Regions from separate parts of the Homo sapiens genome. Here region 2 is linked to region 1. The links come from fine-mapping of genetic effects on gene expression. A gene starts in region 1. The other region holds a variant in brackets. All regions are shown on one strand. Distances are between the middles of the regions.

What was found. PIP is the estimated chance that this variant, and not a neighbour inherited with it, causes the effect.
Region 2: its variant is fine-mapped to the expression of FAM185A in neutrophils (BLUEPRINT, PIP 0.95).

What each region holds. Positions count from the first base shown.
Region 1 is chr7:102,742,908-102,754,928 of GRCh38, forward strand. It overlaps FAM185A (family with sequence similarity 185 member A), which reads left to right and starts at 6,092. Exons shown (of 8, transcript NM_001145268.2): 1 at 6,092-6,751; 2 at 8,785-8,894. The coding sequence starts at 6,301. It also overlaps the pseudogene RASA4DP. RefSeq lists silencers at 5,782-5,871, 5,912-6,081 and an enhancer at 5,815-6,109.
Region 2 is chr7:102,769,228-102,781,248 of GRCh38, forward strand. It overlaps FAM185A (family with sequence similarity 185 member A), which reads left to right. Exons shown (of 8, transcript NM_001145268.2): 5 at 3,182-3,223; 6 at 8,026-8,121. Among named protein-coding and RNA genes, the nearest start is that of FAM185A, 26 kb to the left of the region's middle. The variant A/G (reference allele first, on the strand shown) is at 5,893.

The DNA.
Region 1 (12,021 bases):
TTACTTTGCACAGAAGGAAATGAAGCAAAAATAAAAGAAAATAAAAATCGAAAACCTGGCCCATGACCATGGAAATTGGTCGAGTTCTGACTGAAGCAAATCCAAAATTGTTCTACAGGGAACAAGAAAAATTTTATTGTAATCTAGAATGTAAAGGATTTTCAGAAAAGAGAACTCCCGCTGAAGATGAGCTATAAATAAAAATTTATACGCCATGACAAGAAATAAACCACCATGAGACAGAGTTTGTTTATGTAGCAAAAGAGAAACAGCAACCTCATAACAGAACAGACTAGAATAATTTTGCATCAGTATGTTTAAAATAATTAAAAAGGCAAGAGAAGGTAAAGAAACCACAGTAAAATAAACGGGGCAGTTTAAAATAAGAGAAAACAGATTTTTTAAAGAACCAAATAAATATTCTAGCAATGATAATATAGTCATTGGGATGAAAAATTCAATGCAGATATTAAACAATGGATTAGCAAAGATTGGATTAGCAAAGATTCATTAGCAAAGATGTTCTAATGAATTAGAACATAGATTTGAGGAAATCATCCAGAATGAAATACAAAAAGATGAAGAGGCATAAATCATATAAACACAGTTAAGAGATATGGATGACAGAATGAGAAATTAAAATACATGTCTAAATGAGAGCTCCAAAAGTAAAGAATAGAAAGAGCAAGGACATGCTGAAGGTTTATAAATTGGAGACTTTAGACAAAGAAAGCATATTGACTTCTGAGCAGGACAAATAAAACTAAACCATATTAACAATTTTCTAACAATCTTCCATAAAATAAAAGAGGCAACATTTGCCCTTCTAATTTTACCCTAATATCAAAACCAGAAAAAGACATGAAAGAATACTTTGGACCAATATCCTTCATGAAAATAAAATGTAAAAATCCTCACAAATTTAGCAAGTTGAATCTAGCAATTTATAGAAAAGATAATGATGGCAGTGGCTGGTGCCATCACGCTGGCTGCAGCAGGGAGGAAAGGCTGGGACTGCAGACCCAGGCCTCCCACTCCATGGGGCAGTCAGGAGCCCCACCCTCCTGGACGGTGCTACAGCCGCCCAAACTGCAGCTGTAGATCCGAGCCTCCCTGCGCTCTTGAAGTGGGGCTGGGAACAGGCAGGATCTGCCCTCTTGGGTGCAGCTGCAGCCGCCTGACCAGCAGCTGCAGACCTGGGCCTCCCACAACATGGAGCAGGCAGGAGCTGGGGAATCCTGCCCCTGCTGAGTTGGCCTGCGGGAGCTCCCTGGGTGCAGCTGCCACTGCCCTCTCACCCACGGGACCCAGGCATCTCTGCAGCCTGTACCCTCTGGTGCCCCGGAAGGCCCCCCTATCCCTGCAGGCTTGGGGTGTCTGCTCCCGCTGCCTGACCTCTCTCCTCTCCTGACCTCTCTCCTCTCCTGGAGCTGGCTCAGATCTTGGAGTGGGGTTGGGGTTGAGCCCTGGGGCCATGAATGGCAGCGGGAGGCAGACAGATTCTTGGGTGGAAGGGGGCAGGTCCCCAGTAAGGCTCTACCTTCAGTCCAGGAAGGGCCTGAAGGCTGGGGGCCAACTGCCAGTACTGCATACCAGTTTGGGGACTCATGGGGCCTCTTCCAGCAGCCCATGGCTGCCCATGGACCAATCAGCATGAACTTCCTCCCCTCTGAGGTCCATAAAAGCCCTGGACTCAGCCAGAGCAGGGCAGAGGATGGCCAAAGGACGAAGAGGGTAGACAGACTACACAAGGACCAGCTGCAGAAAGGAGCTACCGTCTCTGCCGAGAGCTTCAGAGACAACCTGCCAGCAGACAGGAGGCACCCTCTCCAGGGCCTCCTCTCCACTGAGAGCTGCAGACATCAGGACAACCAGTAGTAGAGAGGAGCTACCCTCTCCAGGGCCACCTCTCTAATGAGAACTGAATGCTGGACAGATGATCTTCCTACAGAGAGGAGCTACCCACTGTGGGTCTCCTCTGAGCTCTTGTAACACTTAATAAAGCTCATCTTCGTCTCGTTCACCCTTCACTTGTCTGCGTACCTCATTCTTCCTGGATGCAGGACAAGAATTCGGGCAAAGGTGCTGTGGCCACAGAGGTTTCTGGCCAGGAAATTGGCAACGCAAAACTCCCTGACAATAACATGATGAAATGTAGCTTATTGAGGGAATGAAACACTTGAAAAACAATCACTGTAATACACCATATCAATAAATTAGAAGAAAAACAATATGATCATCTTCATAGACACAGAAAAAGCATTTGACAAAATGCAACATTCACTTATGATAAAAAGTCTAAGCAAATTAGAAAGTAAACTTCCTTAACTTGCTAAAGGGCATCTTTAAAAATCTACCGCTAACTTCCTAATTGTTGTTGAAATTTCCCTCATAAATAGGAAATAAATCAAGGATTTTTGCTTTTGCCACTCCAACTCAATATTGTAGTGGTGGTCTTAGCCAGTGCAATAACACCAGGAAAGAAAAGCCATACAGAGAAAGGAAGAAATAAAACTGTCTATTTGCAGTTTCACATAGAGATTTCAAATAGAATTAGTACCTATATATAGTCATTAAATACTTCTCAATGTTGATAGTTATTAGTTAAGATTGTTGAGTTTATTAATATTTCATAAGAATAATAGAAGTCATAAGATATATCTCTTTTTAAATAGTTTATAATTCAGAAAGTTAAGTTCTTATGGCTTTTCTCTTAAGCTAAATTGCTGAAGTCTTTGTTTTGGTTACCTTTTCTTCTGAAAACTCTCTTATGACCTCTGCTGTCCATTTATTGAACATAAATCATTAAATAAAATATTCGTTGACATTTATGTCTAGATGGTAAGAAATCTTCTGCCCATCTGATTATTTGAGTCAGTTTTAGGAAACAATATATGCTAAGAAATGCTTTAAAATTGTTTTCTTATAAATGTAATATATTTTCACTATTGATAACACACAAAAAATTGCAGTAACCACTCATCATATCACTGCTTAAAGATAACAACTGTTATCAAGTGGTACATATCCCTCTGGAATTGTTTCTGTAAAGTATAATTTTATGTTAAATTTATTATTATTATTACACAATTGAGATCATACTATACGTGCAATTTTGTATATATTCTTTTCACTTTATATATGGACTATTTCCCATATCAAGATATAATGTTTAAATTGTTGCATAATATATCAGCTATATACTAATTTATGTAATACTGTCTTATTTGCGAGCATTTAACATTTTTTTTTTGAGACAGAGTTTCAGTCTTGCCATCCAGGCTGGAGTGCAGTGGTGTGATCTCGGCTCACTGCAACCTCTACCTCCTGTGTTTAAATGATTCTCCTGTCTCAGCCTCCTGAGTAGCTGGGATTACAGGCATCCATCACCACGCCAAGCTAATTTTTAGCAGAGATGGAGTTTCACCGTGTTGGCCAGGCTGGTCCTGAACTCCTGACCTCAGGTGATCCACCCGTCTCAGCCTCCCAAAGTGCTGAAATTACAGGCATGAGCCACTGCACCTGGCCAGGGAGCATTTAAATTGATGCAATTATTTTCTCTTACAAGTAACCCTATAAAACGTAATTCCTTGAGCATACCTAATTTTATGCTTACATCCCCAAGAGCACAATTTCTGAGTCATAGAAAAAGCTTTTCATTCTTATTGCTGAATTGAACTCTAAAAATTTTGTGCTAACTTAACACTCCTACCAGAAGTATATGTTCATGACCACGGAAATAGCTTTTTAAAACTAAGATGTGAAAATATCTTAGAAACAAACTCTAAATAAGGAGAAAAAAGTTGTATATAATTTTCTACTTATGAGGTGAATAATTTCATTTTTTCTTCAAAGGTGTCAGGAAAATGGACGTTTTGGTAGAGTGATAAAAGGGCCAGACCTTCTAATTGCTTAATCTTAATGTTTCTGAATCTGAATCCTCATCTATAGTGTGAGGAGAATAATTTCCCTCCTAATTAGTGAGGATACATTGAGATGACGCATGTGAACATGGTTTGACAATTATAATGTCATATGGATGGAAGATACAACTTTTATTAATCACTGTTGATATGTGGACAGATTTGATACTCATTATACTGTTTTTAAGTGTCTATAACTTTAAATATTTTATGCCAATCTTAATATTAATAATTTTCTCCATTTTCAACATTGTATGATCAGCAAAGTAAATTTTCAGTCAATTCTATTTGGTTTTTATTTGAAAAAGTAAAATAATGATCATGCAACATAGAAAATTATAGTTCAGTTGCCAATTCCATTAACTTAGTTTGTCTCAGAAAAGGAAAAATTACCATAGACACAGAATTAACTATTAGAATTAATATTTAATCTAAAAATGTCTAGTGTTTCTACAGAAAATTTGAGTACCTTCTCAACTTCCTTAAACCAGTGCCTTTTTCAAATTTCTTTTCAAAGTTACACCTCTCAATTTTCATAAAAAATAGTTTGAAGATTATTCTGAATAATTATAACCAATGAAACACAAAGACAAGAAAAGAACTATTGCAGTGGGCCCTTGCTGAACCTGAGCTAGCACCTATAATGAGTGAGTCTTCACCAAAAGAATAAGGAGGGAGGAAGGACTAGAAGGACAGAAAAGAGGCAATGATAACTTAAGAGAACACTGAATTTTTAAAAATTTTAAAAAGGTAGTGGCTAGCAGAGAACCTGAGACTTGTACCCATGAGAACTTTAGCCCAGTCTATCTATCACGATAGCCCCAAGAATTCTGGTCATTGTACTTGGGTAAGGGCTTCTATTTTTTAAGGCACTTGCATTTTATGAAATGTTAGTGTTTGCAGGTGTCTTGGCTAAATAATTTAGGGAATACATTTTAGGAGGAAGTAGGGGCACAGAGGGGGAGAGAGAAACCAGGCAGGAAAGAAGAAAAAAAGAAAAAAGAAGAAAATAAATCTTTCTGTTCCCATTATTTTACTGCCTATAGAATTATAAAAGGTAAACACACACACACACACACACACACACACACACACACCCCTTATAGGGTCATTTAGAACCATCTTTCTTCATTTTAAAACTAAAGAAACAGGTCTAGGTGACACAGATGAAGCAGTGGCAGAGCCAGGAAAATAACCTGACCCTTGTCCCTGCTCTTTCCACCGCACCATGGTGACTCTCTTTTTTGTGTCTTTTTTTTTTTTTTCACTCTAAAACTGAGGATCATTTGTAGTCAAAGAGATCAATGCTATTCTCAAAACAAGTTCTGATCTCTCATAATTTTCTTGGTAACTCAGAATCAATGTTAAGTACGTTGAAATAAAAATACAGTTCTTTACACGGTAATTTTGTAGACTGTGCACCACGGTCCCATCCATTTTCTTACTTGATCCTTACAAAAACCCTTTGAGGCAAGGCAAGGAAGGTATTATTATCTACATTTTTAAAGTGAGCAAATTAAAACCCAAAGTAAGGTCACTTAGGGTCAGGACGGAGCAAGTACTCTATTCCTATATTTGGAATATAGGAGGGAATACACTTCCAAAGAGGCAATTCCCTCAAAAAGCACCAATCTTGCTCTTTACTTTCTTACCAAGGCATTCTCCATGCCCTGGAGATGCCCTCACTAAGTTAGTGAAGCTTGGATGTTGACATCCACAGAGGTTACTCCTAGTTTGCACCTAGTTGTCATCTTAAAAAGCGCAGTTTCTTACCCCTTCCCTTGGTCCTGATCCTTATTTAGGCTCCTATTTTTCTCTTTGGGATTTGGCGTCCTGGGTCTCACTCCAAAGCTCCACCCTCTCCAACCAAGAAGTCGCGTGCTTGGTATCCAAGGTGACCACGCAGCTTTACCCGCGTTGCCCCTTCCGTGCTTCCCATTGGCCAGTGGACTCCCATGTACCGCCCCTCCAATAGCCAATGGTCTTGAGACAAAGGGCGCCCGCCTTTCCAGCGATTCTAACACCTACCCTCTTACCCGTGCTCCCCTGCGCATTGCCTCCTGGGAAATGTGGTTTCTAAGAGGCAGAGCTCTGCGACTTAGAACTACCTATCCCGTCGGCCTTAGCGAAAGGGGGTGGACTTAGGCAAGGGGTCCAGGTCAGAGTTTAGAGCTTTCAAATCCCAACTTGCCCCTGGGGATTGCGCGGCTGATGTTTAGAACGCCTAGTCAAGCCAACCGGCTCGCTCTTGTTTCAGCAAACCCTGACTTACGTCTCCTATTTGACTTGAGGCGGCACAGTGGCCAAGTCGATTGGCCGTGGCAAGTGACCCTCCCTGTGGCTGAAGTGTTCTGAGGACTGGCGAGAGAGGCGCGCCATGCTTGCCCCCTGCTCAGGTTGGGAGCTTGGCTGCTTCCGTCTCTGTCTCCGTCAGGTCCGACTGTGGGCTGGCGCTGGGCGCTGGGCTTGCTGGGCTTGCCAAGCCAGGCCGTACAGCTCAGGTGGGAGCGAGCGCTGGCCCGGATCGGAGACTGAGGTCCCTCCGCCTGGCCCGGGGCGCCGAACTCTGAAGGAGTGGACACTGCAGGTGAGCCCGTTTGGTCGGCTGCGGGCGCGGCTCCCGTGCCACCTGGCCGTGAGGCCCCTGGACCCCCTCACCTACCCGGATGGCGACCGCGTGCTGGTCGCGGTGTGCGGCGTGGAGGGCGGCGTGCGGGGCCTGGACGGCCTGCAGGTGAAGTACGACGAGGATCTGGAGGAGATGGCCATTGTGTCTGATACTATCCACCCCCAGGCGTCCGTGGAGGTGAACGCGCCCCTGAAGTTTGGCAAGTGAAGTGAAGTGAAAACGGGTTTGGGTCCCAGGGAACGCACAGTGAACTTAATAAATGTGGTCGACGTGCACTTTTAATTGGTCCTGGCTCTCTAAACCTAATTTACAGTTGGCCCCTTCGGAAATGCACCTTTTCCTCTGTTCTGTTCTTGAGTGTCCGAGTAGTATTTAAAAATTAGGTTCCCAATTATAGAAATTTTATACATCGAATGGAAACATGATTTGGTATAATCCAGGTCAAATTCTATTTCTGGAGCCGCTTGTGTTCTCCTTTATCCCGTTGTCATTAGCAAACTGGCTTATTTTTCAAGGTTGAAGTTTCTTGACAATTCATTCAATGGTATGGCAGTCCATCTACATTTCATCTTGCTCACAGCCTGGGGGTCTGTCCCAAAACAGCCCTGTCAATAGGATGTTCCGGGTATCACCTGGTTTGAGTATTTGGTTTTAGACGGGCGCCCAGCTTCTTACTGTTATATTTCCATTCTTTTTGGCCTAAGTTTTCCATGAGTAGCAAGCTTTGAAGAAAAACACATGGTAAGCCTGCCTAGGAAGCTTCAATAATAATGCCTGCAAGATACCTTTCTTAGCTTTTCCTAAATGGCAAGCCACTGTGTACACACACTTTTCTAGGAAGGGCTCCCCAGACTGTCATTCTTCCTGGGACTGATGGAAGATATTGATGATGATGATGATAGTAATAATAATAGCATTTAGCATTTTTAAGATCATCTTTTATAATGCTTAGAGTTGCCCAAATAGTAGATGCCGTAGTCCTCCCTTATCCACCGTTTGGCTGTCTCAGTTTGTTACCTGCCTCAGCTGTTGTAGGAAAATATTAAGATATTTTGACAGATCACAGTAATATAACTTTTATTACAGTATATTGTTATAATTGCTGTATTTGTTATTATTGTTCATCTCTTACTATGCCTAGTTTATAAATTAAACTTGATCATTGATATGTATACAGGAAAAAACATAGAATATATAGGATTTGGTACTATTTGTGGTTTCAGGAATCAAGTGGGGGGGCGGGTCTTGCCTACTTTAAGAGAAATCATCAATATTTATGTTAATTCCAAATTAAATATCAGCGTTTTTAATTTTTAAAATTTGTATACAGAGATGCCTGCAGTTACATCTTAAATAGACAGCCAAGGATGGCATTTGTAATTCCTTATTTTCCAAACTTGCTTCATATACCACTGCCATTTGTCCACAATCTTGTGGGGTTTTTTGTTTGTTTGTTTTGGTTTTTTTTGAGACTGCATCTCACTCACTCTGCCACGCAGGCTGGAGTACAGGTGCACAATCATGGCCCACTGCAGTCTTGACTTCACGGTTTTAAGCAATCTTCTCGCCTCCACCTCCTGAGTAGCTGGGACTACAGGTGCATGCTACCATGCCCGGCTAATGTTTTTGTTTTTTTGTAGAAATGGAGTTTTGCTACATTGTCCAGGCTGGTCTTGAACTCCTGGGCTTCAAGCAATCCTCCTTCCTCGGCCTCCCAAAGTGCTGGTATTACAGGCATGAGCCACTGCTCATGGCCTAATCTTGTAGTTTTAATAGTATATATTAGCTTTTTCAAAGTTGTTCCCATTTTTAAAAAATTACTTCAAATACCTGTGATATAGTTGCATGGTAATATTTTCATTTTTTAAGTATGAAAGGTTAGACATAGGATTTGAAAACCTAAGTCATGATCATATATACTGGGGAAGAGGCTTCTACAGTCTTTCACAGGAGTACTTAACAGAATCGTAGTCTCCTTTACTTCCCATCTATGTTAGTTCTCTTTAGGTGATTTAGGCCAGTAGAAATAACTGCTCTGTTTCTAAAAACGGGCAGAAAGGCTATTGTTTTTGGTCCCGTTGCTGTGGTAGAAGACCCCTTACCTTTACAGTATGCACTTTCCAGGATTCAGCAATATTACGGACATAACTGAGGAGTTGGGTTTCTAGGTTAAAATGCTTTGGAGCTTATAAACTGCAGTACTAACTTGCTTTTTTCTTTTTTTACTTCTAGGTTTAGATATCAAGTCATCAGGGTCTGGCTGTGTAAAAGTTCAAAGTATTGAGGGTGATAATTGCAAAATTGAAACAGAGCATGGGACTAGTATCTTGCAGTCTGTTAAGGTATAGCATTTTTCTAATTTTATTTCACTATTATTTTTTTAAAAGCCTTAAGCTATGAATCGTACTATCAAACTCAAGAGATTCTTCTGTTTTTCAGAACATTGTCATTCATTCATCTCTCAGAAAGTCCTTGGCAAACATTTTGCCTTGAAATCAGTTCTAGTAAAGTACAGAGGTTATAGCAGTTTTGAGGTTTTGCCTCAAATTTCTTTTGGATTTAATTTCAAAGTGTACAGTGAAACTAATAGTATTTTCCTAGTATTCTGAAATCTTACTAAAGAAATTTTAGTTTCCACAAATGATTTTCTTCCATTTTATTAAAGAGTAAGGAAGAATCTTTATGCACTATAAATGTGCTTAAATATTAGATGACTTTAATCACATTTTTAATGTACCAGGTAGCTCATTACTTAAGGATTAAGTAGTTATTTGTGCAAAGTAACATATGATTCATCTTGTTTTGTAATTAAAATTTTTTTTTTTTTTTTTGAGATGGAGTCTTACTCTGTCACCAGGCTGGAGTGCAGTGGTGCAATCTCAGCTCACTGCAACCTCTGACTCCCTGGTACAAGCAATTCTCCTGCCTCAGCCTCCCAAGTAGCTGGGATTACAGGCATGCACCACCACACTCAGTTAATTTTTGTATATTTAGTAGAGACAGGGTTTCACCATGTTGGCCAGGCTGGTCTCGATCTCCTGACCTCGTGATCCGCCTGCCTTGGCCTCCCAAAGTGCTAGGATTACAGGCATGAGCCACTGCGTCCGGCTGTAATTAATTTTTTTTTTTTTTTTTAGTGTTTTCTTTGTAGAGACAGTGTCTCACTGTATTGCCCAGGCTGGTCTTGCACTCATGGGCTCAAGTGATCCTCCTGCCTTGGGCTCATGAAGTGCTGGGATTACAGGTGTGAGTCACCATGACTGACCTATATTTAATTTTTTAAAGATTAGACTGGTGTTAGCTGTAAATAGTTTGAAATACCTCTCTGATAGGTGCTAGCTTATTGTTACTCTTAGTGCTTCTTGCATTTGCATAGTCAAAACTTGATACTTTTGTGAACTTTGAAAGCATGCAATTTTGTTGAAGTCAGTCATCTTTGCTTCATAATTGCAAAATATTTTCATTTTTAGATTTCTAAACACTAGTTAGAATAATTTGATGCATTTTTAATTTTTACATATTTTTTCTTTCATCCACCTTTATTTGCGTATCTGCCATCAGCATGTGTCCACATATGAATCAGTTCAAATAAATTTTTGGCACAAATATCATAAAAGATTAACATTACCATCACAAGTCCTTTTAGCAAAATAAGTTGGTTCAGATTCTTGTTGTAAAAGATTGTGTAATAAGGTCTTCATGTTGAATGACTAGGTGAGGATATCATAATTCTTTTTTGTCCTTAGAAATATTTTGTTCAGTCATTGATACTTAAGTTTCAGAAAACTAATCTAGACTTGTCCTCTGAAGACTCAAGAGTTTGAGATTTCCAATTTCACAATCAAAATTAGAATCTAGTATACTGCTGTCTCTGCATTTATGTTTTGATTAATCTGATAGTTCTGAAAGATCTTTCTCTGTTGATTTTCTTCTTTTATGCCATTGTAGGCATAAAATTAAAAGTGGTTTCTTAGCCTTGGCAATACAAACCTTTTCAGTCAGGTGATTTGTTGTGGGGGCCTGTCTTGTGCAGTATAGGATATTTAGCACCATCTTTGGCCTCTACCTTTTAGATGCCAGTAGCATGCTCCTCAGTTGTGACAAGGGAAAATGTCTCCAGACATTGCCAAATATCTTCTAGAGACAAAATCATCTCCAGTTGAGAACGACTGCTTTATGCAAGTCCATCATTCTTCTGTTTTCTTATTTAGTTTTTTTAAAAAACATAGTTGGGAATAATTTATGAATAATGATGAAATAACTCCTAGGATGATGAATTAGCAAAAAAAAAAATTAAAAATAAGAACACTATTATCCCATAATGTATTTCAGGTTTATAAAAGTCCAATGGACCAATTAATGGTAATTACAGGATAGAAAGAGTTTTGTTCTATTTTTTTAAAAGTAAGTACATTTTCTATTTATTCCTTGAAAGACCTCCCAAGAAATAACAGAAATCATGAAATATCAGTTCTTACAAATAAAATAGCTCAAAACAAGAAATTCATGAAAAATTACGCCTGTGGATACTAATGGTATACCAAGGGTTAAGAGAATTATCCTTGAGATCATAGGATTTAACTAACTTCAATTCACAAATGAGAACACTTTGGTAAAATATCTGGTTTAAGTTTTAAGTATCGTACAATAATATCATTACCTTGAATTAGTGGTCACCTGTTGATATGTGTCTCTTTCATTAACTTAAGGACTTGAAATATAGTTGACCTACATAATAAAAAAAATTTTTTTTTTTTTTGAGGCGGAGTCTCACTCTGTTGCCCAGGCTGGAGTGCAATGACACGATCTTGGCTCACTGCAACCTCCGCCTCCTGGGTTCAAGTGATTCTCCCACCTCAGCCTCCCGAGTAGCTGGGATTACAGGCACCCGCTATCATGCTCGGCTAATTTTGGCCAGGCATGTTGGCCAGGCTTGTCTTGAACTCCTTTCCTCACATGATCTGCCCCACCTTGGCCTCCCAAAGTTCTGGGATTACAGGCATGAGCCACCGTGCTCAGCCCTACATAATAAAATTTTTATAGCAATAATAATAACTACTGTTAATAAGTCCTTATTATGTACCAGGAATCTTAGCTAAACCTTCATTTAATCCTTGAATTTTCTCCATTTTATCAAGGAAGAAACTAGAAGGCACCAAGAGATTGAGGAACTCACTTGCGTTCACATAGCTAAAAAAAATTGAGCTGGGATTTGACCTTGGGTCTTTCTGATTTCCAAGCTCATGCTTTTTCCACCTTTATTTATTGTCCTGACAAAACATATGGTAAGACCACATTTGTACAGCATCCTTAGGGAATAAGATAAGTGCATTTTTTAGGCAACAGACCCTTAACTAATTGAATGTCACACATTTGCATTTTTTAAATGCAGTATAATTTATTTTCTAAATAATTTCTGATTTATTTAAACATTTAACTATTTGGTTTTATGTTTTTAAAAATTCTATA
Region 2 (12,021 bases), 26 kb after region 1:
TATGCTTTTAGTATACAGTAGAACTCAAACATTCAAGAAGAATGTTATCTGAGACTCTATAGGTCCCACTATAATTAACTAATCCTCATTTTGTATAGATCTAAAACTTCTATTTTTCTGGTTCAAAGAATCATTGTTTTCTCAAGACCTCCTCACTTTCATGACAAGCACTAATGATTGGCTTTTTGAGAAAGACCATATTTTTATTTTAAAAAAAATTGTAAATTTTTACTGCATTATTAAAGACTAGTGTAAAACTATAAAGCTCCATTGCCTTGATGAGTGGGTGACTGGATTCACTAGCTAAATGACTGTAAAACTTTATCATAGTTCTTTATTAATAAAGTTACGAATATCAGGGACCTGTCTATCTTTTATTGTTCAGGAGGTAGAGCAGTGTCTTAGTCTGTTTTCTGTTGCTATAACAGAATACCTGAGACTGAGTGATTTATAAAGCTTATATATTACAGTTCTGGAGGCTGAGAAGTCTGAGGTCTAGGAGCCGCATCTGGTGAGAGCCTTCTTGCGGATAGGGGCTCTGCAGAGTCATGAAGTGGCACAGGCCTCACATGGAGAGAGGCTGCATGAGAGACACCCACACTGGCTCTTATAACAGACTCACTCTTGTAATAGCTAACCCACTCCCTCTATGACCCATTAATCCATTGATTCATGAATGGGTTAATCCATTCATGAGGGTAGAGCCCTCATGACCCAATTACCTCCCAAAGGTCCCACCTCATAGTATTGCTGCACTGGGGACTAAGTTTCCAACACATGAACTTTTGTGGGAACGTTCAAACCACAACAAGCAGTAAAGAGAATGCTGAGTATGGAAACACCCACTGTCTCACACTAGGTGAATCTCCTTAAAGCATGGTTTTCTTGTATTTTTATTCATCTTGAAATTCTTCACTAACTTTTTTGGTGTAGGATAGTCAGTAGACTTAGCACTCTGTGGTTCTACCACAGGTTGCTCTTTACCTACTTTTCCAAACTTTTTATTTGTTCACAAAATAATTGTGTTTACTATGTACTATGCACTGTGCAAAGTTCCCAGGTATGAAGCTAAATAAGAAAGATGTGATTCCTGTCCTCCTAGACTTGCCTCATTGGGATCTAATTAAATGAAAGAGCTTCTGCACTGCAAAAGAAATTATGAACAGAGTAAATAGACAACCTACAGAATGGGAGAAAATATTTGCAAACTCTGTATCTGACAAAGGTTTAATATCCTTTGTTCCTTTGAATCTTCAAGGAAGTTAAACAAATCAATAAGCAAAAAACTAATAACCCTATTAAAAATGAGCAAAAGACAGGACATTTTGCTCATTTCTCAAGAGAAGACGTACAAGAAACCAACAAACATGAAAAACTGTTCCAAATCACTAGTCATCAGAGAAATGCAAATCAAAACCACAATGAGATATCATCTCACACCAGTCAGAATGGCTATTATTAAAAATAAGTAAAAAAACAACAGACGCTGGCGAGGCTGTGGAGAAAGGGGAACACTCATACACTGTTGGTGGGAATGTAAATTAGTTCAGCCACTGTGGAAAGCAGTTTGAAGATTTCTCAAAGAACTTAAAACAGAACCACCATTCAACCCAGCAATTCCATTACTGGATATATACACAAAAGAAAATAAATCATTCTTCCAAAAAGACACATGCACTCAACATATTCACTGCAGCTCTATTCACAATAGCAAAGACATGGAATCAACCTATGTGCCCATCAGTGGTGGACTGGATAAAGAGAATGTGGTACATATACACCATGGAATACTATGCGGCCATAAAGAAGAATGAAATTATATCCTTTGCAGCAGCATGGATGCAGTTGGAAGCCACTATCCTAAGCGAATTAACACAGGAATAGAAAACCAAATACCACATGGTCTTACCTATAAGTGGGGGGTAAACATTGGATAATTATGGACATAAAGATGGCAACAGTAGAAACTGGAGTCTACTAGATGGGGGATGGAGGGACGGGGCAAGGGTTGAAAAACTATTGGGTACTATGCCTAGTACCTGGGTGATGGGATCATTTGTACCCCAGACTTCAACATCACACAATATACCCAGGTAACAAACCTGCACATGTATCCCCTGAATCTAAAATATGAAAAAAAATTAGTAATCTTATAAGCTTCAGTACACAAACCAAGTTTTTATTCATACACAAATATACTCCTTGTTCATATACTCACAAGAAATATGATGGTATATTAGACCTTCAGATGGATTTTTGCAATTAGGCGCATCTGGCTATTGAGTAAATGAATCCAGTGCCTTTTTTTGGTTTTTCCCAGATACTGATACAAGTCAGTATTCATAAGGTATATGAAATGAGATAAAATGAGTTTACTGAAGATTAATTCTGAGGCCAAAGTTATTCCTTTACTTTTTAGTGTAGTTTTGGAATTATTTTAGAAGAGATAACATTATTGCTTATATTTTCAGTAGAATAAATATGAGTTCCTGATTCTAGGAATACTTACACATACAAACACACATATGAAGAATAATCCTACTACTTTTGGTGTTAGGGGAAAGGGGCTGGGAAGAATGGTTGCAATATTCCATCCTTATCATGGAAAACATATTTTCACTAAGACGGAAATCTTTGAAGCTTCTTTGTTCTGTTTTGTTAGTCATACCTCCATGTATTCATTATTCCTATCTCAAACCACTTTAATTCTTGGCCCAGAAACTACTTTTAATTTAATAGACATGGCAAGTGGCCTGAAAAATAAAAGTAATTCTTTTTTTCCATACCATATTTTAGTGTTACTTGGTTGAAAACTTCGCTTTGTGTGGTCTGATAAATACATTGATATTTAGGTTGAAAATGTACAGTGACTACATTTCAGTAATTTTTTTCACTTACAGGTTTTAGAAGTATTGTTTTTCCTCTGTGCCAGCAGTTATGGTGATTTGTAGTTATGCTATAAAAGCTTAAGGTTTGGTAGTAGAGAAAGAAGGTTTGCAGAGATACCTAAGCCAGTTATTTCAGAACTACAGCTCAATCTTTGACTGGACTTGTGATATTGGGAAAAATTGCCAACAAAAATAACATTGTAGATATTCATCCATGTTTTAGCATTGCTATGTATCACAGTTCCTTTCTAGATTGTCTCTAGTACATAAAAGTATCTTTTTCTTTTTGGCAGGTAATATAACATTACAAAGCAAGATGGGTAACATCACAGTAGGTATGTGCTAAGCTACTAGTTCGTGTATTTTGTCCACTTTTAAAAATGGGTATATTTGTGATGACTTTATTAGAATAAATGAATTCTACAGTTTAACTGATGAACTTGACAGGATCACAAGTCAAATATAGGCAGAACCAATGTACTAATTATGTCCACTCGAAGAAAATCGCCTGAGCTGGTATTAAGAAATGTCTTATATTTCTTGCTAAACTTCTCTGAAGAAAAAAAAAAGAAAAGAAAGAAAAAAAGATCTTACAAATTTCTTGAATTCTTCAAATATCTAAATTAAGTCCTTGAAAGAAAGATATAAATAATGTCACTGTTTATTGGGCTCCAAATGTGTTAACATTTGAAGACAACCTTGTGAATACCAATAACTAGTTAGTCAACATGTATTTATTGAGTACCTGCCATGTATTAAGAATTCTTTTAGGTACTAGGGAACATATTGGTCAACAGGACATAGTTTCTGTGCTCAGAGACCTCACCTTCTCTGAGCCCTGGGAAGAAAGACAACAAGCACATAAATAACAAAAGGTAATTTTAGTTTGTGGTAAGTACAATGAAGAAATAAGAAAGGGTAACTGAATAGAGATTGGGGAAAAAGAAAGCTACTTCAGTTAGGCAATTGGGGGTGGTCTGGAGAGGGTACATTTAAACCAAAGCCAGAAAAATGAGAAAGAGTTATATAAAATTCTGGATACAGGCTCCCTAGATAGAGGAACAGCAAGTGCAGGCCTTGAAAATGGAAGTTTACTATTTTCAAGGGAAAGAAGGCTGGCTTATGAGGAAAGTGGTAGGATATGAGGTAAGTAAGGCTAGATCTTAGGACCTTGTAGACAGGGTAAGAGTTCAGACTTTATTCCAACTACAACAGGATGTTAGGGAAGTGATATATAATTTATATTTTAAAAGAACAACCTAGCTGTTATTTCATAATGTACCAGAAGGGTTCAGAAGTGAAAGCAGGCTATTAGAAGGCTTAATTTGTTCATTCTACTGTTGATGGACACCTGGGCCATTTCTAATTTTTTGGCAACTGTAAATAAAGCTGCTATGAATATATTAATGTAAGTCATTTTATGGATGTATATATATTTTTCCTCTTGGGTAAATACGTAGGTATGGCATTGCTGAGTTGACTAGGTAGGTTCTATGTTTAACTTTATGATAAACTACCAGACCTTTTCCCAAAGTTCCACTTTATACTCTCATCAACAATGTATGAGAATTTGAGTTGCTCCACATCCTCATCAACATTTATTATTGTCAGTTTTAAAATTTTTTTATATCATCATTTGTTGAAAAAACTTCCTTTCTCTGATGGATTACTTTAGCATCCTTGTCTAAAATCAAATCACTATATAAGTGTGGCTCAATGTCTGATCTCTTGTTCCTAATTCATTGATTTATTTGGTGAGCCTTATGCCGGTGCCACAATATCATGATTACTGTATCTTTGGTAAGTCTGTAAATCAGGTAGTTGAAGTCTTCCAAATTTGTTCCTTTTAAGGATTACTTTGGATATAATAGGTCCTTTGATTTTCCAGTCAGTTTCTACCAAAAAATACAGTTTTGATTATGTTTGGGATTGCACTGAATCACATTGTATCTTCCAATTAATGAACATGGTAGGTAGCTCTCTCCATTTATTTAGGTCTTCTTTAATTTTTCTCAGCATTGCTTTGTAAGTTTCAGTGTAGAGATCTGGCACATTTTTTTGTTAAATTCATTTGTGTTTTTAACACTGTTACAAATGAGACAGTTTTTAAGACTTTGCTTCTAATTGTCTACTGCTGATATATGTAAATACAAATGATTTTTATAAATGGACCTTGTATCTTGTGACCTTGCTAAATTTATTCTAATAGTGGTTTTCTCAAATCTAGAATCCTTTTCTAGCTGAGCAGACATTTTCAACTGCAAATAGAGTTTTACCTCTTTCCCTCCTATCTTTATTACTTTTCTTTTTCTTGCCTTATCAGACTAGCTATGAACTTCAGTATAATGTTGAATGTAGTGATGAGAGTGTGATTCCTTGCACTTGATCCCTATCCTTGTCCCCAATATTAGGGGGAATGCATTAAGTGTGATGTTAGCTATAGATTTTTAACAGATGCCTTTTATCAGATTGGGAGAGTAATCTTTTATTCCTTGTTTGCTTAAAAGTTTCTCTTTTTTTACTTTCTTTGTTCGTGAATGAGTGTTGAATTTTGTCAAACACATTTCCTGAATTTATTGAAATGATCATTTTTCTTTTATTAATATGACCAACTATACTGACTGATTTTTCTTTTAACATTATTTACTTGTTTATTATTTTAAAAAATAGAGACAAGGTCTCACTTTGTTACCCATACTGGTCTCAAATGCCTGGCTTCAAGCAGTTCTCCTGCCTCAGCCTCCTAAAGTGCTGGAATTACAGGCATAAGCCACCACACCTGGCCCTTTCTTTAAAATATCTATCATTTACTCAGTGCCCATGTGCCAAGCACTGAGCTAATCACATTACAATGTAGATTTATTTTGGTATCTTTTGTGGTGTGTTTTGTTTTTGTTTTTTTTTTTTGCTTTTGCTGACTTTATTGAGACATAATTGACAAAACCGTATATATTTAAGGTATACATGCAATATAATGATTTGATATACATATATACTGTGAAAT[A/G]ATTTCCACAGTCCGTTTAGTTAACATATCTGTCACTTCACCTCATTACCATTTTATGTGTATGATGAAAATGTTTAAGATTTACTCTCTTAGCAAATATCAAGTTTACAGTACAGTATTGTTAATTACAGTCACTGTGCTATACATTAGATCTACAGGACTTTCTCCCAGATCCATAGAATTTCTCCATTATGTAAACTCCAAAAGAATGAAATTCTGTGGATGAAGCCTTAATTTTACTCTTGATAATTAATTTTAGTTCTGATAATTTGTGTTAAACAAAAAAAATAGGAGGGCTTGTTTTGCTGCATAGTTTTAAAATATCACCTTTGCCTTCTTTCTTGAAAACATCTTGCGTTTTCATTTTTTTATTTTTTAACATCCTCCAAGGGATGAGCCATCATTAGAGATCAATACAGATAACATGAGGATATAATTACTTTGTGGCCTAGGATATAATTATTTAGCTGTCATTTATTTCTCATTTGGAGGGAAAAATAAATGAAAGTATTATTTATGAGCCACATAAAAATTGTGTGTGTTTTTTTTCCCTCCTTGAGAAAGCGAGAAATCACACTAATGTTTCAGCTATTTTACTTTGTTCAAACTGGAATAATACACACCTTGTGTATTACACTTTTCTTTTTTTTAGCATAATGTAATTTTTACTTGGCTTCTTTTAGGATGCGGTAAGAGGTTTAAAAAGGAGTTTCTGTTGGTTCGTAAGCAGTGAAATGTTCATTTTGTCCAGCTATTCTGTGTCATTTATCTCTAGTGGTTTCATTTCCCAACGTCAGTGTTAACTTTTGACACTTGAAAACTAAATAAATTGAGTCTGATAAAGGGCATTTTCCAGTATAGATTGGAAATAAATTATTATAAATGATCTTGGAGCCGCATTTTAAACAGTTTATTCCAAATTTACTCTCTTTGTTTGAAGTCAGTTAACATTTTTTTAAAAGAAAAATGTTGGCTCCTATACACACACACACACACAAATGTTTTCTCTCTCTGTTTTGTAAACAGTATAATTTTTGGCATAGTTTTCACCACACTCCCTACTTTGTTTCCACTTTGAAGTAATAAAACCTCCTGATAAAATATGCTTTTTAAGAGGCCTCTCTAAAAAGAATATGCTTTGGCTTTCTCCAGGCAGTCAGATAGAATATTAAATTAAAGATTCAATTGCCATGGGAGAAAGAGAAGAAGGAAAAACCACTTAGCACTAACTCTTCAAGTTCATTTTCTTACTTCCTTATTTTGACTGTTTTCCCTTGAACTTGAGATACTGGTTGATTCAAAAGTGGGGTCATTGACCACATAGGGAAATTTGAATGACAAATCAGGGTTACCTTAATTATTATTTTCTTATCCTCACTTAAAGATACCTGTTCAATTCCAGAAACTTGAAAAGAACTATTAGATATAAACAAGCTATTCTTCAAATTATTCCACCCTGCCCTTCTGCCCCTTAAAGAAATGCAGCAAGCCAGGAACAGTGGTTTGTGCCTGTAATCCCAGGAGTATGGCTTGGTCCCAGGAGTCAGAGACCAGCCTGGACAGCATAGCAAGACCCTGTCTCTAAAAAAAAAAAAAAAAAGAAAAAAAGAAATGCGACAACTTTATGTAGAGTAATCTTTTACTATTAGGAGCACTTCTTAGTATCAGCAAATTTGCTACAAGGAGAAATTATGAGAGGTTTTGATTTTTGTCAGCCTTGCTACTGCTTGTATGTGACTATACATGAGGTAGAATTCTTTGGTAATTATTGAAAGTTTACTAAATGTATCAACATGATAAAAAACTAAATATATCAATGATGCTTAGTGGTCAAAGGAACCATTACTTGCAGACTCTCCTTCCGACTCATTAAGTTTTAGAGTAAATGTTTAGAGATAAGTTATTCAGGTTAATATAGATAAAGATTTTTAAATTAGTTGTTTAATAGATTTCTAGGTTTCTGATACTGTTTACGTTCAAGTGCAAACAATGGCATTGTTATGAGGAAAATACTAAACCTTGCAAGATTCTTAGCCCCTTATCCTAATGCTAAAGCAGAGCCTTTTATTTTAAGTTTGTAATTCCATTTATCAAGTAAGAATTATTTTACTTATGGTTTTTTCTTCTTCCTAGATTCGTCTTCTGGATGTCTAAAAGCCTCAACTAATCAGGGTGCCATAGATGTTTATGTCAGCCAACTGGGGAAAGTGGAATTGAAATCCCATAAAGGTTAGTGAACTGGAATGTTTTATTTTGACATATGATGTAAGGAAGGTTTATGTAACACTCAGGAAACAGATGGTCAAATTATCTATACTGACATAGTGATTTCAAGAAAATATCTTCTGATAGAACCTAATTTAAAGGCACTGGTCTGCTAGCTTTCTAGACCAGTGATCTTTACAACTTTTGGGATAGATGGCCATGCAGACTATCTTTCCCTTTGTAGTACAAACAAAAATGTAATATTTTGACTGTTATTATGGAATTTTTAAATGTTACTCTGTGGATTTTTCAGTTTATTCTATTCTGAAATAGAATAATCTTTGAAGGAAAAACGCTGCCATACACTCTTTTGGAAGCTTCTCTGCCAGCCTGTAAAAGGAACTTCTCAGGCAATCAGTGTAGAGTAACAGTTTTCAAAGTGTGATCCTTAAATAAAGGTATCACACAGAAAGGTCCTCTAAAGTGATTACTTAGTCTCTTGAAGTATCAAGACTTATGATATGTCTCTATCATTTAACTTCTGACACAACTTATTCTGAGTCCAACTCTTTCATTTAAAATGGTATACTTTTCATCTGAAAGCTAAATATGAATTTGTCTGTTCTTCTGCACACATGGATGTACACATATGTGTTGACAAGTGGCTTGGGTGAAGTAGGTTGGCCATAGGGGCTGAAGTGGCTTGGCTGCAGAAAGTTAAGAACTGTAGCTCTGTATAAAAAAATTTTTTTAAATAGTCTAGCAGCTCTTGCATGTTGGCCAGATGTTTAACAAGGAAAATATTTCCTCACAGAGACTGATTGTTCCTGCTATTAGTAGTTGCTTTACCATATTGATGTAATAGTTTTTTTTAATCCATCTCTAGAATTTGTCAGTGTCAAAACTGCAAAACACAGAGGTCTGAAACCTCAGTTATTGCTGATACACCGGTGTGACTTCTCAATATCATATTTTCTCCCTTTAAAATAGGATAAACTTATGTCCTCACTAAATCTAAGAGCTTCAGGTAATACTCTTCAGGGAAAATTATAAATGGCATGTAAGTCATATAACTGTACTCCATTATTACAAAGATCCAAAGAGAAGAGGGATATATTGTTAATATAACTAGTAACAGAGTAAGAACAAAGTTTTGAATAAGCAGCTGTTACATACAAATAATTTAATGTTTTGCACAGTAGGCAAAATAAAACAAACAGAAAACTGTAAAACTTTTGAAGATTGTTAGTCTTTATTCATTTAAAATATTTCTTAGTATTATTTGGAATATTGCTGGAACAATATTGGAATAGTATTTGAAACTATTGAAATAGTATTTGATGTTGCAAAATTTGATTAGGATTACAGTTTTATGTTTTCTTCTACTGGGACCATGTTACTGGCAAAAGCTTAAAGACAACTGAAAACAAAGATTTCTGTCTTACTTCAGATCTCCGAATTCTCAATACACTTGGTAAGAGTAACTTTTTAAGAGTAATGGAAAGTTATTCAGTAACTCTTTCTTAATCGTTCGCAAAGACATCTGGAATCCATTCCAACTCTGCCACTGTCTTGCTGTAGGGTTCAGAGCCAGCCACTGGAGTCTCTTAGGTCTTCAACATTTTCTGATGTGGAAAAATATATAATGCTTGTTTTCTTTCACCTTATGAAAATTAATATGGTGACCTTCTTAATTCATTCCAGGCTATGCTTGGGCCTGGGAGTCACACCTGAATCTGAGTACTGACTTTTCTACTTAACATTTTGTCCTTGGGAAAATCACTAATTTTAACATAATATGCCTTCAATAAATGATGCTGTTAGTTCACATTTGAATTTTTAAGAGGATAGTACTGATGTCAACCATGAAGAAGTTTATGATGTGAAAAGAGGTTAAAGAACACAACAAGAGCCCTCCTTTCTAAAAAAGTTAGTGTTAACGATGGGACATTAGGAAGGTTTTCAAGTCATGAAAATTCTTCATTCACAAACAGTAATGGAGTTTTGGTAGGTGGTTTTTGGCTTTTAAAGATATGGAGGGAGATGGGGTAGAAATCTTTGCATTGCTTAACATTTCTAAAGATCTGAAAAATTTAAGATCATGTTATGCATTTAAGGACAGAGACAAGTGTTCATAAAGTTAGCACACTTGAAACTTGATACATTTAGACATATCAAGCCCTACAAAAAAGTTTTTAAATCCATGATTTTCTACTTTTGAAAGTATGTTTGGTAGAAAAACGTGTCTTCTATTTATCCTGAAATCTTCCAGGGTTGTTTTTGTTTTGTTTTTTCCTAAAGCCCTCATATGTTGTTATGGGAATCTCCTGTCTGTAGTTTACATTTGAACCCTGGAAAGCAATTAAGTTTTTTGTTTTTGTTTTTGAGACAGGGTATCACTCTGTCACCCAGGCTGGAGTGCAGCAGCAAGATCATGGCTCAGTGCAGCCTCATCAGGATCGCCTAAGCTTGGGAGGTCAGCCTTCCAGGTAGATGAGACTACAGTTGTGCACCACCACACCCAGCTTTTTTTTTTTTTTTTTTTTTTTTTTTTTGAGCTGGGGGAGGTAGAAACAGGGTTTCACCATGTTGTCCAGGCTGGTCTCGAACTCTTGAGCTCAAGCAATCCACCTACCTTGGCTTCCCAAAGTACTGAGATTACAGCCACAAGCCACTGTGCCTGGCTGCAATTTATTTCTTAATAAAATAAACTAGTTGTAGTAATATGCATTGTTCCCTAATTTTTTTTTAGAATAGAACAGTTTGTCATGCTTATCTCAAACTTCTAGCTCCAGTTAGGAAGACCAAGAAATTACTTAAGGAAGCTTAAGCTGATGTTAGCCAGATTGGAAGGAAAACCACGACCCATAAGTAAATGCATTCTAAACCCCATCCTGACCATCTTTGTCCACAGAGGTGGGGTTAATGCATTATGGCAGGGGCCTTTTACCTACTTTATTTAATGAAAAACAGGAAGAAAAACTTCTGAAATAGGAGTGTGTTGGTGAATTTACACTGCAACCCACATAATTCTAAAAATGATTCCATACCTAACAGAGTACTTTTCCTGATTTACTCCTTTAGAAGGTTGAATTACAGCCAGGTTGTATGGAAATACAGGCTGAGTGTCTTACCTTAGGTATCCAAAAGCCTGTAATCTACTCAAAAGAAACATTAGTGAGTTGGAATTCAAATAATCCTTTTCTATTGTTATTTTTTGTTACACACAAGGCACATCTGAAAGCACAAGAGCTCAGTGTTCTAGTTGTGTTATAATAATGAGGTCACAAGTCCTGTACTACGATGAGGTAGGAGTGTGTGAAATACCATGGTGGTTAAAAGCATGGGCTTTAGGGTGGAGCCAAGATGCTGAATACGAACAGCTCCAGTCTACAGCTGCCAGCGTGAGCGACGCAGAAGACAGGTGATTTTTACATTTCCCACTGAGGTACCAGGTTCATCTCACTGGGGAGTGTCAGAAAGTGGGTGCAGGACAGTGGGCGCAGCGCACCGAGCGTGAGCCAAAGCAGGGCGAGGCATCACCTCACCCGGGAAGCGCAAGGGGTCAGGGAATACCCTTTCCTAGTCAAAGAAAGGGGGTGACAGACAGCACCTGGAAAATCGGGTCACTCCCACCCTAATACTGCTTATTTCCAATGGTCTTAGCAAACGGCACACCAGGAGATTATATCCCACGCATGGCTCTGAGGGTCCTATGCCCACGGAGCCTCGCTCATTGCTAGCACAGCAGTCTGAGATCAAACAGCAAGGCAGCAGCGAGGCTAGGGGAGGGGCGTCCACCATTGCCGAGGCTTGAGTAGGTAAACAAGTGGCCATGAAGCTCGAACTGGGTGGAGCCCACCACCGCAGCTCAAGGAGGCCTGCCTGCCTCTGTAGACTCCACATCTGGGGGCAGGGCACAGC